Regions from separate parts of the Homo sapiens genome. Here region 1 is reported to be linked to region 2. The links are microRNA targets in miRTarBase. Many come from high-throughput screens and were not tested one by one. Region 2 holds a microRNA gene; the other region holds the end of a gene's coding sequence.
The links. Region 2 holds the annotated microRNA hsa-miR-424-3p (CAAAACGUGAGGCGCUGCUAU, at 1,298-1,318, shown strand). A microRNA usually pairs through its seed, bases 2 to 8, with sites in the 3' UTR of a target mRNA and lowers its output. Matches are read on the target gene's strand: a 7mer-m8 pairs with bases 2 to 8, a 7mer-A1 pairs with bases 2 to 7 and ends in A, and an 8mer does both.

Region 1: miRTarBase lists MAP10 as a target of hsa-miR-424-3p. Seed matches in the 3' UTR shown: 7mer-m8 at 1,462-1,468.

The regions. Positions count from the first base shown.
Region 1 is chr1:232,807,830-232,810,829 of GRCh38, forward strand. It overlaps MAP10 (microtubule associated protein 10), which reads left to right. Exons shown (of 1, transcript NM_019090.3): 1 at 1-2,100. The coding sequence ends at 338. Among named protein-coding and RNA genes, the nearest start is that of MAP10, 3.9 kb to the left of the region's middle.
Region 2 is chrX:134,544,732-134,547,961 of GRCh38, reverse strand. MIR424 (microRNA 424) reads left to right here and starts at 1,251; the gene lies at 1,251-1,348. MIR503HG (MIR503 host gene) reads left to right here and starts at 1,332. Exons shown (of 3, transcript NR_024607.1): 1 at 1,332-1,410; 2 at 3,165-3,230. MIR503 (microRNA 503) reads left to right here and starts at 1,564; the gene lies at 1,564-1,634.

The sequences.
Region 1 (3,000 bases), not on the chromosome of region 2:
TCTCTGCTAGTGATTTATCTTCAACACATTGGACTGAACAAAAAGAAAACCAGATAGATCAAAATAGTATGCACAATTCTGAAATTACAAAGAGAGCTCAAGACATCTCTGTTAAAACAAGAAGTAGTTGGAAATCTTTAGAAAAAAGCCAGTCACCACAAACATCCCAGGTGAGTTCTTACCTGCCTTCAAATGTGTCCGAACTTAATGTCCTGGATAGCAGTACATCAGATCACTTTGAAGAAGGCAATGATGATGTTGGTTCACTAAATATTTCCAAGCAATGCAAAGATATTTGTGAATTAGTAATAAATAAACTTCCAGGATACACAATGTAAAAATACATGCTTTTAAAAAACTTTCAAGGACCTATGTGTACTGTTAGTGAAAAAAATTTTAAAGCTGTTTTAGTTCATGAATTATGTGAATAATTTTTTAAAGAAATATGAATTAACGTTATTCCTTTGATGTTTAAATGGTATTTTACCATTAAATCTGATAATATTGATTATTAAATCATATAAACAGATTTCTTTTTAAATTGTTTAATCATAAGAATAAAAGTGTGTCTTTCTAAATTGTCTCTCTTAAAGTGTCTAGTCTACAGTATTGATCATTCTAAAGCTGACTTCATGCACACCACTGAAAAAGAAGGCTAGTTAGTAAGGACAGCCTCAAATTTTAATTGGAACAAATTATTTAACAAATATAGAAGACTTACTGTGTTAGATGCAGAAAGGTGCAGAATCTATTTATGATAGAGCCCTGCTGTTTTAAAAGCTTACAGTTGTATGTAGATAAGAAGTCTTCCTTGACATATACATATCCCATATCCCCAATAGGTGAAGTTGCTTTTATATGCTCTCATAGTGCCCTGCACCTTTTGTTTATAAGCCACAATTTGTGTGATTACTTGATTAAAGTTTATCTTCCACTAGGCTTCAGTTGTGTGATGGGATCATATTTGTTTTACACATCAGTGCATTTTTGTATCTAGCACAATTCCTGGCATGTGGCTGCAGTGCAATAAAAACATTTGTTGAAAAAAACGAAGCCCAGGCATTTAAAATACCTAATGGGAGGGTTTAGAATTAAGCAGCAAAAATAAGCAGATTCCCTAAAATAAACCTGCAGAAAATCCTTATTGGAAATATATTTGACTGTAATATTTCTGTTTTGCTTGGTATAAATAGCCTTCAGGTGTTCTCTGAAATATTTGGAAAGGGAAACTTAAGAAGGTATCTTTTATACAGTTTCTGATATAGGAGTTCAGTTTCTTGTCATTTCAGTTTGTTCAATGGTTATTTTTAGTGTATGGAACTTTGTTTTTATGAAATCCAGTGATAATTTATAATTTATTCCATTGGTTTTATATTTAGACTTTATTCTGTGTTCAAATATTTACATATATTTTCTTCTAGCTGTGTTATACTTTAATTTTTAGACTTTTTAATATATCTAACGTTTTTGAATGTATGAAGTGAGGTTCTAATTTCCTTTCTTTAAAGGTAATTAATTATATAGGTATTCTGAATGATCATAATACTAGAATATAGATAGATGGTAAAAAGAGAGAAGAGGATGTTACATTTTGGGGAGCAATATGAATAAAAGAGTGATGGGAATGAGCCTGATATATTTATGGGACAATTTAAAATATTATCTTGAATAGAATGATCCACTCATGCTACAGAGTGGTAGAAAGGACATTTGTTGAGTAAGGAAAATGCCAGATTACAGAGAGCCTCAAATGCTAAGTATAATAATAGAATTCTAAGCAATAGGAATAACAGATTATTTTAGGTTATAAATGAGCACTAGTAAGTAGTCATGACATTTTGAATATTTTAAATTATTGAAAATAATAAGCAGAGAAATTATATCAGTTAAAGTTTTGAGATATGAAAGGTTTCTGTGGCTAGTGGCTATGATCTTAATTTTTCTAAAATATAAAGCATATAGTATAACATTTCACAAAATCAAAATATTGTAATGCCAGGTATTGTAACTAGATGTTTAATGATGTGAACTGTGTAAATTGTTTAATAGCAATTTGTCATTACTATGGAAGAGACAATAAAAATATAAGCAATATCAGAATCATCAAAGAAATAATTCCTTATAAACCAACGTTTTATTTGGTAGAGAGTAAGTCATTGTCTGTGGTAAGAATAGGTAAAATGATTAATTTAGCAAGTCTAAGGTACAACAAGACCAAAAAACTAATGCACTTTAAATTACAAAGCTGAGTAGCTGAATCCGCTTCTCTTTGAGTTAATCCATGAATACTTATTTCTAGAATTGTGATAATTGTTTCTTCTAGTCTAATTCTAGTGAAAATATCTGTTTTCATGTATTTAGTCCTTCCTATTACATTCTACAAATTCTACTCCATGTTTTAATTCTACAATCTATAAGCTTATTTTAAAAGAATTTTGTAATAGATACTATTCATGGAGCCTTATTTATCTCCTTAGTTGCTTAAAATTATTGAAACATGAAATAGTATTTCAAGTCACAAATAAGGGAGACTGTCATTTCATTGTAAAACCAAGCTATTGCAAACCTTCCAAAAGGTCTTCTGAATATCATGGGTGTCTAAACTGCTATGGACAAAGCTGAGTGGGAGAGGGTCTAAAATGCAAAGTGAGCCACAGAAAAGATGTTAAGACCTACCTCTATGTAATGTTGAATGTTTACAGCTTAGGAACCAACCACCAATAATAAGTCCTCTGAACTGTTCCCATAAACATTTGCAGAGGGCTGTGCAGATGCATACAGTACGCTGGGTTTTTTCCCTTCACTTACAATGCATGCTATTGATGACATTTTCAGATGCAAAGAACAATGATATTAAACTTCTATCATGCAATTATTATGGCTTTCTGCTGAGAGCCACTCCTTTACATGTCAATTAATTTAGATTTTTCTTCATGTACAAGCAGTGAATTTAGTATGGAATTACATTTAGGAACCAGACTTTTATTGGTAGCAAAATAT
Region 2 (3,230 bases):
AGTGTATTTGTTACCACTGGATCTCAGTCTGGATGTTATAAATTCGATACTTAATCTTATTAAATACTCTGCACATTTTATTAACTAATAAATAGGACACTTAACATTCATTGTACTGGTTTTGAAAAACCGACTTAATTTGTAAGTGTAACAAGATACTTACAGTTGGATAATTTAAATGTCTATTACTTGTGCTGAAATGTATTTAACTTTCAAAACCATTACAGTTAGTGCTGATTTTGTTGTTTTAACTTTTAGGTTTGTGATTGAGGATTTCAGAGTGGGTTTTTTTTTTAATGCTTAATTGAATATTGTATTCAAACAAAAAGAGGGCATGCATGTGACTTGTTGCTAATATGTGTCCATTTTAAAAAGGAAAAAGTGGTATCTAATGAGTTAATCATTAAGGAGTATGCGCAGTGCCGGCCATTTCAGGACATGAAAGTTTCTGTGGAGCTGCTTGAAACAGGAAGGAGCGACTTGACATCAAGTATTTAAACTTTTTGATTTATGTTTTGATAGATGACATTGATAGGTATAAATTATAAATAAGTTTGAGTAACCAGTTTAATATGTAAACTGGTATTTCATCTACAGAAAGTTCTCTGTCATTGTTTGGAGCTCTTTAAAATAACTCAGCTGGGGTGTTTAAGAATAAAAACACTAGCAGTGAGTTAGGACATCTAATGCTTTTAAAGATAGATGTATATGTCGCAACGATAGTGTAAGAATCAGCTGAAGCTACCGGTGAGGTTTTGGTTATTTTCTTTCAGTCATCTGAGTCCATTTCCAATAAAGGTTGTTTTTTTGTTTCGTTTTTTGTTTTTTTTTAATGGGGACAATGAATGAGACTTGTAATATGCAGCAGGAAGAAGTTTCACCAAGACTTTGAAACTGGCAAGAATGATCCAGATGTCCAATTGCCTCTACTTAACCTTATTCGTCTACCTTCAGAAGTAATTAGATTCTCTTCCACACTAATTCGTATCCCCCATCGCTCTGCTTTTCACCCACTACGTTGTTCCAAGATTCATCCTCAGGGGAAAAAATTGAGAGCCACACTTTCGGCTCCACCTGCAGCTCCTGGAAATCAAATGGTGAAGTTATAAGAAGTACCTTAACTTGGAGTGAAGTGGCCTAGTCATAAGTTTTGCCCTATTCCTTGCCAGGGGGTGGGGCGGGGCTTCCTTCAGTCATCCAGTCTTTATTCACCCGCAGGTACCCCCAGATCGATCCCCCTTCATTGACTCCGAGGGGATACAGCAGCAATTCATGTTTTGAAGTGTTCTAAATGGTTCAAAACGTGAGGCGCTGCTATACCCCCTCGTGGGGAAGGTAGAAGGTGGGGTCTGCCGGACGCGTGTTCCTGCCACCAGGTGCCCGCTCCCCGCGAGGCCGGCTCAGGAGCAGGTAGGTGGGCGGGGGCTCGCGTCTCTGTTTCCGGCGGGTCCTCGCCCTTGTCCACGCAGCAGGGCTGTAGTCCGGGGAGGGCAGTATTCCTGGCTAGGCTGGGGCGCATAGGCGGTGCGAGTCGAGGAGAGACGCGGTGCCCGCGCTCAGCCGTGCCCTAGCAGCGGGAACAGTTCTGCAGTGAGCGATCGGTGCTCTGGGGTATTGTTTCCGCTGCCAGGGTAAGTCTGGGACTGCCGTTCGGGCCTACCCAGCAGGTAAGTCTTAGGCCATCGCCTGCGGTGTCGGCCCCGGGAGCAGCGAGACCCAAGATTGCATCAAACGTTTGCCCCGTCTCTGCATATGTGACTGGACGTGAATGATGCTTCATTTTGGCACCCCCTTTCCCTGCTCAGGTAGAATGTAAACAATTGAAAAAAATCCCTTCCCAATCAGAATACCACCCACAGGACAACGAAGAAAACCTATCTTCAGTCCCCACCCACGAAATGCTGGGGGGTGGGGAGGACTGGAAAAGGAGTAAGGGGAGAGGAAGGGTGAGCAGCTGCAAGAAGTCTTTACACCTCTCTGCGGTTCCTGGTAAACGCGCTCATGTCCTGGGTATGGAAGGGACTTAAGAATTCAGGAAAGATCAAAATAACGGGCCTCTTCCCCACTCCCTCGCCCTCCCTTCCCCGCTGCTGGGGGGTTAGGGAGGCTCCGTGGAGCTCCAGCACTCTAGAAGGATCGGGTGAGGCGCGAGGCCTTGCGGGCGGGTGAACCCAAGGTGGGGTGGAAGGCTCCAACCCGCCCAATCTGAGCCCGAGGCCTGCTGAGAAGCATGGGGGCCTTGGGATAGTTCCAGAATGAGGATGTGCGTTTCTAGCTGCTTTGCGCCCTCCTCCCCCAAAAATCTGCTACCACAATTCCAACCCGGCGGCACGCCCCCAAGACTCCTTTGTCGCCCCAGGGGCGGGACCTGAGCTGTCGATTTCAGGAGCCCTTCGTGACTTCAAAAGTCCTGGGCACTGTTGCTCATGAGTGCTGCACAACTGTCGCCCTCTAAAGCCACCTCCATCCCTCACTGGGCTGGCCTCCTGAGCCTTCGGTGAGGAAACGGGGTTCCGAGTTGCCCGCCTGAGAGCTTAACAGTCTGACTAGAAAAGGGCTAATTCGCTTTCTGTGCAAATCTCTTGAGCTAATTATTTAATCTGAAACATGGACAGGTAAAGGACCATTGGCGGGCGTGGGGAGGGAGGTGTGGAATCTTTCCCACACTTTTTGTCACCTTAAAGAAAAAAAAAAGACACCCAAACTCCTCTGGTCTGAATGGGCTGCCTGGAACTGGGCTTCCCGGGGCCAGGAGTGGGCCCCTAGAAGTTTCCCAGTTTGGGGTGGGGCCGGGGTTCCGAAGTCTAGAGCTGGGAGTCGGGTTCAGCGGCCCGAGACGCTGGCTCTCCCAGACTCCCTTGCGCCGGGGCAGTGCGCGGGGGCGGCTCGGGTCCCTCCCGGGCCGGCGGGGACCCTCAGGCTCCCGGGGCGCCGCCCACCAGCCCGACCCGGCGGCCTAGAAATCCCCATTCTGCTCCCGCCTCGCCCCGGCCGGCCAGCGCAGGGCCCCTCAGGCCCGCAATCTCCAGGCTCAAACGGCGAACAGGTCCCCGCATCCGCCTGCCTTTGCACTTGGGGGTGGGAGAGCCACCTTGTGACGCCCCTTCTGCCTCTCACCAGCTTCCCCCTTTCTCCCCGTCCTGTACGGTTCCCCCTGGAGCCAGAAGGAAGCCCGGTGCCAGCCAGCCTTCCTGAAAGACCAAGCCCGCGCCATCCGGCTTCCTCCAGTG